3 linked regions of the Homo sapiens genome follow. The protein of the gene in region 3 purifies or fractionates together with the protein of the main gene of each other region. This does not show direct contact. Each region holds a gene or a part of one and is shown on either strand. Other genes may lie near its edges.

Region 1 (3,403 bases), on a different chromosome or scaffold from region 3:
GACTTCAGAGTACAGGCTCTTAGGATGTGAGCAGGAGGATGGCAGGCGGGCACAGAATTCAGAAAGAATGAGGGAGAGGCTCTGGCCCTCTGTGACCCGAATCACCGAGCCCCTCTCTCCCCTCAGCTCACAAGTACGTGCCTCGAGCCATTCTGGTGGACCTGGAACCCGGAACCATGGACAGTGTCCGCTCAGGGGCCTTTGGACATCTCTTCAGGCCTGACAATTTCATCTTTGGTAAGTTCCCCCTGCTCCAAGCTCTGATGGCAGACCCCATCACAGGCAAGCCCAGGTCGGTGGACGGGGACGGCTGTGAGAAACAAGGAATGGTCAGCTCCTCACATGATCCTGAATGGTGGGAACTCATCTCTCCATTTTACAGCTGGGCATTGGAGGCCCAGAGAAAGGGTTCTGTGGGGAGAACAGAAACCACTCATGCATTTCAAGTGGAATGAAGTGTAAAGCAGACAGAAGCTTACAGAATTGCTAGAGAGCTGGTGAGACAGAACGGGGCCTCCAGAGGACTCCGGGGTCCAGGAGCACGAGGCCTTGCTGCGGTCAAGAGATCAGGACGTTCCCATGCCTGTGTCCTGGGGTTGGGCCGTGGATGCCACGTTCCCATGTCTGTGTCCTGGGGCGGGGCCGTGGATGCCACGTTCCCACGTCTGTGTCCTGGGGCGGGGCCGTGGATGCCACGTTCCCACGTCTGTGTCCTGGGGCGGGGCCGTGGATGCCACGTTCCCACGCCTGTGTCCTGGGGCGGGGCCGTGGATGCCACGTTCCCACGCCTGTGTCCTGGGGCGGGGCCGTGGATGCCACGTTCCCATGCCTGTGTCCTGGGGCGGGGCCGTGGATGCCACGTTCCCATGCCTGTGTCCTGGGGCGGGGCCGTGGATGCCACGTTCCCATGTCTGTGTCCTGGGGCGGGGCCGTGGACGCGCCACAGAAACAGGAGGGCCTCGCTTCACTTCTGCCTTCCCGACCGCAGCACATCCAGCTGGTAGATGCCAACTCGCATCCAGCCCCCAGCTGCCAGGGATTCTGGGGTGGCTGTTTGGGCTCCTGGCACTGCCAGTCGGAAGGAAGGTATGCTGGAGCAGGAGGGCTGATCCATTCACCCAGGATCCCCTCAGGAGGCAGAGCCTCGCTCTGCTGTGACCCCAAGTTCTCAAGACTCTGTCCAGAGCCCTCGTCCTGAGCACTCAGCAGCATCGGCTCAGGGAAGCCACGGCGGGTATGAGAAGGGGTGCTCAGTGGGGCCTACTTTACAGAAGACAGAACAGGCATGGGGCTGCCACGGCTGCCCTTGGGATGTTCAGGCAGGGGCTGGAGGTCTGGACTGCAGAGTCCCTGGCCCCTGTCTCTTACCCCTCTTCTCCCTGTACAGGTCAGAGTGGGGCCGGCAACAACTGGGCCAAGGGTCACTACACGGAGGGGGCGGAGCTGGTGGATTCGGTCCTGGATGTGGTGCGGAAGGAGTGTGAAAACTGCGACTGCCTGCAGGGCTTCCAGCTGACCCACTCGCTGGGGGGCGGCACGGGCTCCGGCATGGGCACGTTGCTCATCAGCAAGGTGCGTGAGGAGTATCCCGACCGCATCATGAACACCTTCAGCGTCGTGCCCTCACCCAAGGTGTCAGACACGGTGGTGGAGCCCTACAACGCCACGCTGTCCATCCACCAGCTGGTGGAGAACACGGATGAGACCTACTGCATCGACAACGAGGCGCTCTACGACATCTGCTTCCGCACCCTCAAGCTGGCCACGCCCACCTACGGGGACCTCAACCACCTGGTATCGGCCACCATGAGCGGAGTCACCACCTCCTTGCGCTTCCCGGGCCAGCTCAACGCTGACCTGCGCAAGCTGGCCGTCAACATGGTGCCCTTCCCGCGCCTGCACTTCTTCATGCCCGGCTTCGCCCCCCTCACAGCCCGGGGCAGCCAGCAGTACCGGGCCCTGACCGTGCCCGAGCTCACCCAGCAGATGTTCGATGCCAAGAACATGATGGCCGCCTGCGACCCGCGCCACGGCCGCTACCTGACGGTGGCCACCGTGTTCCGGGGCCGCATGTCCATGAAGGAGGTGGACGAGCAGATGCTGGCCATCCAGAGCAAGAACAGCAGCTACTTCGTGGAGTGGATCCCCAACAACGTGAAGGTGGCCGTGTGTGACATCCCGCCCCGCGGCCTCAAGATGTCCTCCACCTTCATCGGGAACAGCACGGCCATCCAGGAGCTGTTCAAGCGCATCTCCGAGCAGTTCACGGCCATGTTCCGGCGCAAGGCCTTCCTGCACTGGTACACGGGCGAGGGCATGGACGAGATGGAGTTCACCGAGGCCGAGAGCAACATGAACGACCTGGTGTCCGAGTACCAGCAGTACCAGGACGCCACGGCCGAGGAAGAGGGCGAGATGTACGAAGACGACGAGGAGGAGTCGGAGGCCCAGGGCCCCAAGTGAAGCTGCTCGCAGCTGGAGTGAGAGGCAGGTGGCGGCCGGGGCCGAAGCCAGCAGTGTCTAAACCCCCGGAGCCATCTTGCTGCCGACACCCTGCTTTCCCCTCGCCCTAGGGCTCCCTTGCCGCCCTCCTGCAGTATTTATGGCCTCGTCCTCCCCACCTAGGCCACGTGTGAGCTGCTCCTGTCTCTGTCTTATTGCAGCTCCAGGCCTGACGTTTTACGGTTTTGTTTTTTACTGGTTTGTGTTTATATTTTCGGGGATACTTAATAAATCTATTGCTGTCAGATACCCTTGCTTGGTGCCAGAGATGTCCTTTTATTCTGGAAAGTTGTGTCCAGTAGGTGGAGGGGCTGACAGGGAGGCCCGGGTGGACAGGCAAGAAGAGCTCATCCTCTCCCAGGCTGGCGGCTGAGAGAGGCCTGCGCTGGGGGCCGGAATGTGTCTCAAGGCACAGCCCGTGGGGAGACCCCGGAAACGGGAAGCCCGGGAGAAGGAACGGGAAGTACCTCATTCCAGACCTCAAGATGCAGCCCTCCCGACTTGGAAATAACCCCACACTCGTTCCCTGGCCTCCCACAGAGCGGCTTGCACCCCAGACTTTTCTCCCACCTGTCTGTAGGCTGAAAGTTGGGGCAGGTGGTCCCTCCTGCGGTGGAAACTGCCATCAGACCTGAAGCCTCGGGTCACAACCAGGGAGGTAGGGAAGGGGGCCCCGAGTGCTCCCTGAAAAAGACGGTGTGTTTAGTGTCTCGGGGCTGGGCCCTGGGAGGGGCTGCTGAGGTCAGGGAGATGCGGCCACAGGACGCAGGCCTGGGCTGCCGGGAGGGACGTATCAGTCCTCCCGCCCCCGGCAGCCCCTTCCTGGGGTGCATGATACTTGGTGTCCAGCCACACAGGGCATGGCCTGAGGAGCCGCTCACCTGGTTCCCCACATCCTCCT
Region 2 (3,747 bases), on a different chromosome or scaffold from region 3:
ATTTCTCAGCTGAGGAAATGGATAAACAGATAAGCTGTCCAGAGGGCACAGCTGGTGACCCAGGGAGCCAGGGTCTAACCCAGCCTCCTCATGGCTGGGCTTCGGTGGTTCTGGTTCTCCATGTTACTCGTGGACTCTCAGCTGCTCTCTGAAGAGTTCTTCTTGGCTCAGGCTTCATCCTGGGCTTATCACTTCCTATACACCTGCTGTCAGAAATCCCTGTGTAAATATTAGTAATTGGACATTTGGTGCTTGAGATAAATGAACTGCAAAATCAGGAAGCCAGGGTTTGTTTCCTAGCTCATTGCAAAACTGTAAGGGCTCAGAGCTGCCCTCTCTGAACTAGAGAGCAGTGTACTTCCTCATTATTTGACTCCAAGGTGTAAAAATAGGATGAGTGAAATGACTGTTGCTGGGATTCCTGGAAGAAACAAAGGCCCCAGAAAGAAATCTAGTAGAGGACAATCTCCCCTCTCTGAGCATCACCTGAGTACTCTGACAGCTGGTACCTTCATGCTGAAGCCCTCAAATCCTATGACAGAGAAGTAGGGGTATATAGGCTTCCCATTGAAGCCCTTAGTTTATGCATGACTTTATTCTGCATTTGACCAATGAAGATATGCAACACCTGATATGGCTTGGCTGTGTCCCCACCCAAATCTCATTGTGAATTGTAGCTGTCATAATTCCCATGTGTTGTAGGAAAGACCCGATGAAAGGTAATTGAATCATGGGGGTAGATCTTTCCCCTGAGAAGTAAATCTCGTGAGATATGGTTTTATAAATGGGAGTCCCCTGTACATGCTCTCTTGCCTGCCACCATGTAAGATGTTCCTTTGCTCTTCCTTTGTCTTCTGCCATGATTGTGAGGCCTCCCCAGCCATGTGGCATTGTGAGTCCATTAAACCTCCTCCCTTTACAAAGTACCCAGTCTCGGGTATGTCTTTATTAGCAGCATGAGAACAGACTAATACAACACCAGAGCCTTCTGCTTTTAGCATTTTCATTACTTAAGTTTATTTGCTTTTGAAATGGAGCGAAGAAGAAATTTCTCCACCTTGTTAATGAGACTCATAAGTTGGAATTCTCCTTTCTTGGCAGATCATGTGGGAAAAAGGAATCTCTTGGCACAGGACTCCTAGATGTTCTGCTGTTACGCTTGTTGCTTTGAAACAGGGAATGAACAGACCTTCCATAAAATAGCCAGTTAGAGGCAGAGAAACTGGTCAACCCGATTCCATCCAACGGGAGGAACTCCGAAGTGGCAAGACATTAACCTTAAATCACCCTGCCTTCTGACGGCCATAGATTCTTTTTCCTTAGCTAATAGGCTGTCTCCATGGAGGAAGAATTTCTAGGTGATTCCACACCAGCAGCTGCAGTTGCACAAGCATGACTGCTTCCTTCATTTTAAAGTTTGGGGAGCCTTAGGAGGTGTTTTAGTCCATTTTCTGTTGCTTATAACAGAATACCTGAAACTCGGTAGTTTATTAAACAAAAGGAATTTAGTTCTTACAGTTATGGAGACTGAGAAGTCCAAAGTCCAGGAGCTGTACCTGGTGAGGGCCTTCTTGCTGGTGGGGACTTGGCAGTATCCCAAGGTGATGCAGGACCATCGTGAGGGGGCTGAGCATGATAACATGCTAGCTCAAGTCTCTTTTCCTCTTGTAAAGCCACCAATTCCCTTCCCATGATAACCGATTCATCTATTAATTGGTGAATGGATTCATCAGTTTATGAGGGCAGAGCACTCATGATTCAACCACTTCTTAAAGGCCCCACCTCTCAAAACTGCCACATTGGGGATTAAATTTCAACATGAATTTTTTGGAGGGACACCTATTCAAACCACAGCAGGAGATATGATTTCCCATTCCCAGGGGCTGCCTGGCTTTAAAAGAGCAGCTTGTTACTGTCATCGTCCATTTCCCCCTGGAGAAAGGCTTTTGTGGTCGGTCTGCATGGCAGTCACACCCTGGGTGGTCCATGAGGCCTCAGATGAAGTGGCCCGAGGCCACTCTGCTCTAGGCCCACAGACAAGGCGGGAATAGCAGTTGCAGGCTAGAAAAGGAAGGGCCAACCAGACATTCACAGAGATGCAACCAGAGCAACACACAGCTGAGTCTCTTAAGTCTTCAGTCCTGTGTAAGTTGAAGCAAGACATCAGAAATCTCTCACCTGAGTAATTCCACACATGCACCCACTGCTGTCCAATGCAGTGCTTGCTCAGCAGGGAGCACCTCTTGGCCAAGCGTATTGGCAGCCCTTCTACCGTGACCAGCGTCAGGGACGTCTCTAGGCGCCTTTTCAGAATAGCTGGCAACATAGGGAGACCCAGTCTCTACCAAAAAAAAAAAATTAGCCAGGCATGGTATAGTCCCAGCTACTCAGGAGGCTGAGGCAGGAAGATTGCTTGAGCCCAGGAGGTCAAGGCTATAGTGCATTCCAGCCTGGGTGACAGAGTGAGACCCTGTCTCAAAAACAAAGAAAGAATAGCCACTTGGTTGATGATGATAAAGGATGCTGGGGACTGTGTAGTTCAGACTTCTGTCCAGAGTTTTAACAAATCTTTTGCACTTTCTGTGGCAGAAATACTATTACCAGGCAAGTAGTGTGTGTGGCAGATGAGAACAAGAACTAACTCAGCAGATGCTGAGGTTGTGGTTAGGAACACAGTTAGTAGGTTCTTCTTGTCCAGGGCTTTTGATCCCTTCACTTGGGATACCTTAAGTATTATATTTAATTATAGTCTTCTAAGCAAAGAGTGATGTTTTCTTTTTAGTTTTTTCATTCCTACGATCCACGTCAGACAAGCAGACACAGCTGGCCCTCTGGATGTCCTGTGGCAACAGACATATCCTCCTTGATGTGTTGCCAACAAAGTGCTGAGGGTATCTTCTGCAAAAATGATGCCACTTGCCTATAAAACATACACTTACGACAAGATAACTTATGGTGATGACTTGTGAACAACTTAATTTGCAGTTTCTTTATAATATCTTTCTGGAACTTGGATCCATGAACTTCTTTTGCCCCCAGGCTTGTCCTGATATACCACTGGGGTACCAAGGTAAACACAGTATAGCTCTTCAGAGTGCCTGCATGACTCGAAGATGTAGTGAGAAAGATACTTTTCTAAATATCTTTCTAAAACAATTACAAATATAAAATTGAGTAAAGCACATTTCTTTTTTTTTTTTTTTTTTTTTTTTTGAGACAGAGTCTTACTCTGTCACCCAGGCTGGAGTGCAGTGGTGCAATCTCAGCTCACGGCAACCTCCACCTTCCAGGTTCAAGAGATTCTCCTGCCTCAGCCTCCCGAGTAGCTGGGATTACAGGCATGCACCACTATGCCCACGGAAAAGCATATTTCTTTCTTTTTTTTTTTTTTTTTTGAGACAGAGTCTTGCTCTGTTGCCCAGGCTGGGAGTGCAGTGGCGCGATCTCGGCTCACTGCAAGCTCCGCCTCCCAAGTTCACGCCATTCTCCTGCCTCAGCCTCCTGAGTAGCTGGGACCACAGGCGCCCGCCACCATACCCAGCTAATGTTTTCTATTTTTAGTAGATACAGGGTTTCACCGTGTTAGCCAGGATGGTCTCGATCTCCTGACCTCGTGATCCACCCGCCTGGGCCTCCCAAAGTGCTGGGATTACAGGCGTGAGCCACTGTGCCTGGCCGGAAAAGCATATTTCTAAAGATGATTTCACCCACCCCAAGAATAGCATATCTAGGTAAAATCACATGATC
Region 3 (3,747 bases):
CATGCCACTGCACTCCAGCCTGGGCAATAAAGTGAGACCTTGTCTCAAAAACAAAAACCCAGCAATATAAATAAGACACATGTTTCTTCATCTGGCATAATAGAAATAGTGCCCAGAGCTTATAAGCTTTTCAAGAGTCCACAAAAGACCCGAAAAAGAAAAAGAAAATTGTTAGCTCCAAAATACCAGATGAAAGCTGCAAAGTCAACATTTATGACCATTTAATCCAATGTCCATAAAACGTAGCATTCTTTCCACTAGCCAACTGCAGTTTACTTTCTTGTAATGAAGCATACATTGTATCTTTAATGTGGGACGTGGCTTTGTTCTAATAAGACGAAGGGTGGAGTGCAGGCTTGGAAAGCAGGAGAGCTCAGCCTACGTCTTTAATCCTCCTGCCCACCCCTTGGATTCTGTCTCCACTGGGACTCAAGAGGTGAGGAGAGACCATCTCCCCAAATGCACTGAAGGGAAACTGGAGGAGGGAGGGAGTGAGGGGTGATCATACCAGCGGAGGCACATTTGCTGAGCCCCCCCGCAGTCTGCTCTTTCCAAGTGGACCCTCCTGGAAGCCTGATCCCAACCTCCCCTGCAAGCAGGTCTGTCACCCCCATCTCTCAGATGAAGAAACTGAGCCTTGCAGGGGTGGAGTCCCTTGTCCCCACGTCATAAGGGTAGTCATAGTAGTAGGAAGAGGAAGCACCTAGGTTTGAGGCCAGGGCTGGCTGCTGTCAGAACCTAGGCCCTCCCCTGCCTTGCTCCACACCTGGTCAGGGGAGAGAGGGGAGGAAAGCCAAGGGAAGGGACCTAACTGAAAACAAACAAGCTGGGAGAAGCAGGAATCTGCGCTCGGGTTCCGCAGATGCAGAGGTTGAGGTGGCTGCGGGACTGGAAGTCATCGGGCAGAGGTCTCACAGCAGCCAGTAAGTGAACAGCTGGACTCGGGCTGCCTGGGCGGCAGGGAGAAGCGGGCAGGGGAAGGGTCAGCAGAGGAGCGAGGCCCCAGAGGAGCCCTGGGGTGGAGCACAGCCAAGGGCTCTGTTCCCTTTCCTGGACTCGGCTTCCACAGGCCCTGACCTGCCTCCCCCACCCTCCGGTCCTGCCCCTGTGCCTGGCAGCAGCCCCACCTGTGTGACATCCCAGCACACCCCCCCTCTCCTTGCAAAGGAGAAGGGAGCGGCCTAGGGGAGGCCAGGGGCCCACCTGGGCTGGGGCTGTGGAGAGGGAGTGGCTGGGACGGGAGGAAAAAGAGAGACGGAGATTAGATGGAAGAAGAGGGATTTCAAGACAAATTGCCAGAGATGCAGTCAGAGAGACTGACTGAGAGACACAAAGATAGAAGGAATTAGAGAAAGGGCCACACAGAGCCAGACAGAGAGAGAAGAGTGGAGATGGAGACAGGGACGAGGACAGAGAAAGGCAGACAGACACATAGGGACAGAAAGAGAAAAATCACACAAAGTCAGAATTACTGAATGACAGGGAATGACACATAGAACGAGACACAGATTCAGAGACTCAGGGCAGGGAAAGGAAGGCTGCAGACAGACAGACAGACAGAGGGAGGCTGAGACACAGGGAGAAGAGGGGCTTGGAGAGGTGGCACAGGCAGGCAGCCAGTGCCTCAGAGGCCTCCGGGGAGGGCCCTCACACACACCCCGCCCCGGGGCATTAAGGCAGGGCTTGGAGGCCAGTCATCCTGGGCCCGCCCAGGGCCGCCCCCCTGCCAGCCCGCCTGCCTGGTGCCTGGCACCTGGCGCTCCAACCCAGCCTACCTGCTGTAGCTGCCGCCACTGCCGTCTCCGCCGCCACTGGGCCCCCAGAGCCCCAGCCCCAGAGCCTGTGAGTCCAGGAGGAAAGGGAAGCTGCCCCTCCCCGTCCAGGTGTCAGCCCTCCCCAAGGACACCTGTCCCACTCGGGCACCCATTTCTCCCTCTGCTCTGTCCTTCTCTGCTTGGGTGGGGGTTCCTGGCCTCTCTCTACACCTCTCACCTCCGATGGCTGTCCGCAGCCTCAGTTACCTCTAATCTCCATGGCTTCAGCTGCTGAGCTGGCCCTCTGCTCCCACCCCCGCTGGCCAGGGCAGCGGAGGGCACTGGCCCTCCCCTCGACCAGCCCCGCCCAGCTTTGCTTGGCTGTCCTTCAAAAGGGCAGGGGTTTGGCGGACAGGGCTTCAGCAAGCCGGGTGATGGGGGTCCCAGACATTGTCTGGGGCTGAGCCCCCTACTCCCCTCCAGCAGACCTCAAAGGCTCCATATCGCTCTGCTGCGAAGACAATGAAAAAGGGGTGGCTACGGAACGGTGTCTGGTTCCCCTTGTCCTTCCACCCCAAGCTGCTGGGGCCTGGCCAGCTCTCAAGGCAAGAAGGAAAACATCCTCTGACATGTGCCGGGGAGGTCCCATGGCTGACTTGAACAGGGCCGAACCATGGCTTGACAGCTCAAAGCCCCTCCCAACGACTTCCACATGGTTCTTGGTATCTCGGAAGCTTCTAGCTGTGACCAGGCCCTCTCCAAGGCCACCCTAGACACCTAAGATATATTTTAAGTGTTTGGAGATCTGAGTGCTGTGAGAAACAGGGGATTTCCCCAACCTTGTTTCTCCCAAGTGGGGAGCGGGAGCAGGTGAGGGAGAGAGGAGAGGGCATGAGCCAGCCCCCCCCTCCCGATTTCCCCGTAAAGTGATGCGGCCCCATGTCCCTCCTTGTTCCCAGAGGAACCTGGGGCCCGCTCCTCCCCCCTCCAGGCCATGAGGATTCTGCAGTTAATCCTGCTTGCTCTGGCAACAGGTACGCAGGGGATGGGGGCAGGGCAGGATCCTCCCTCTTGAATCTCTGGGATCCCCTAACCCTCTGTGTCTGGACAGTGACAGGGCTGATTCCAAATTACAGAACAACCCATAAGGCACCTGAACTGGAGCAGTGGTCATGAGGGCCTGGATGCCCTTCTAGATAATCCCTTTAAATGCCAAAGGAGGAGAGGTCAAGGGGGTCGTAAAGGGTCCCGTGGAGGGGCTGAGGAAGCTGGAGTTGGGGGAGCAGTCACTCAAAGCGCCCAGGACAGGGGCTACTGACCAACCAGTATGGAAGTATTTCCTTTTTTTTTTTTCCCAGAGACAAAGTCTTGCTCTATTGTCCAGGCTGGAGTGCCGTGGTGCCAACACGGCTCACTGCAGTCTTGACTTCCCGGGCTTAAGTGATCCTTAAGCCATCTCAGCTTCCCCGGTAGCTGGGACCACAGGCACCTGCCACCAAGCCAGGCTAATTGTTTAATTGTTTGTAGAGATGGGGGAGGAGGTCTCACTATGTTTGCCTAGGCTGATCTAGAACTCCTGGGCTCAAGTAATCCTCCCACCTTAGCCTCTCAAAGTGCTGGGATTACAGGCATGAGCCACTGCATTTGACCTTATGGAAGTATTTTCATCCTTTAATACCCGACCCCAGCATCCAGGGCAACCCAGAGGGACACCAGACCAGGGCCCAGACCACCCACTCTCTTTCTCTCCTCCCCACCCCCATTTCTGGGAGTCCTCCTGGTCTACCACCTCTCCTTCCTGAGCCCCTTCTTTTGCTCTCACCCCCTCCAGGGCTTGTAGGGGGAGAGACCAGGATCATCAAGGGGTTCGAGTGCAAGCCTCACTCCCAGCCCTGGCAGGCAGCCCTGTTCGAGAAGACGCGGCTACTCTGTGGGGCGACGCTCATCGCCCCCAGATGGCTCCTGACAGCAGCCCACTGCCTCAAGCCGTGGG

What was found.
Region 1: the proteins of KLK11 (region 3) and TUBB3 purify together in Homo sapiens (affinity purification with mass spectrometry; 3 studies listed by BioGRID and IntAct, with this or other methods). This does not show direct contact.
Region 2: the proteins of KLK11 (region 3) and LOXL2 purify together in Homo sapiens (affinity purification with mass spectrometry; 3 studies listed by BioGRID and IntAct, with this or other methods). This does not show direct contact.

The regions. Positions count from the first base shown.
Region 1 is NC_000016.10:89,933,342-89,936,744, forward strand, and holds the end of TUBB3 (tubulin beta-3 chain), read left to right. Parts: intron 1-126; coding exon 127-237; intron 238-1,387; coding exon 1,388-2,463; 3' UTR 2,464-2,756; downstream 2,757-3,403. UniProt on the Homo sapiens protein: Tubulin is the major constituent of microtubules, protein filaments consisting of alpha- and beta-tubulin heterodimers. Microtubules grow by the addition of GTP-tubulin dimers to the microtubule end, where a stabilizing cap forms.
Region 2 is NC_000008.11:23,397,427-23,401,173, reverse strand, and holds part of LOXL2 (lysyl oxidase homolog 2 precursor), read left to right. Parts: intron 1-3,747. UniProt on the Homo sapiens protein: Mediates the post-translational oxidative deamination of lysine residues on target proteins leading to the formation of deaminated lysine (allysine).
Region 3 is NC_000019.10:51,024,633-51,028,379, reverse strand, and holds the start of KLK11 (kallikrein-11 isoform 1 precursor), read left to right. Parts: upstream 1-1,763; 5' UTR 1,764-1,842; exon of another isoform or gene 1,843-1,883; intron 1,884-2,237; exon of another isoform or gene 2,238-2,359; intron 2,360-2,681; exon of another isoform or gene 2,682-2,713; coding exon of another isoform or gene 2,714-2,748; coding exon 2,749-2,788; intron 2,789-3,585; coding exon 3,586-3,742; coding exon of another isoform or gene 3,743-3,746; intron 3,747-3,747. UniProt on the Homo sapiens protein: Possible multifunctional protease. Efficiently cleaves 'bz-Phe-Arg-4-methylcoumaryl-7-amide', a kallikrein substrate, and weakly cleaves other substrates for kallikrein and trypsin. Cleaves synthetic peptides after arginine but not lysine residues.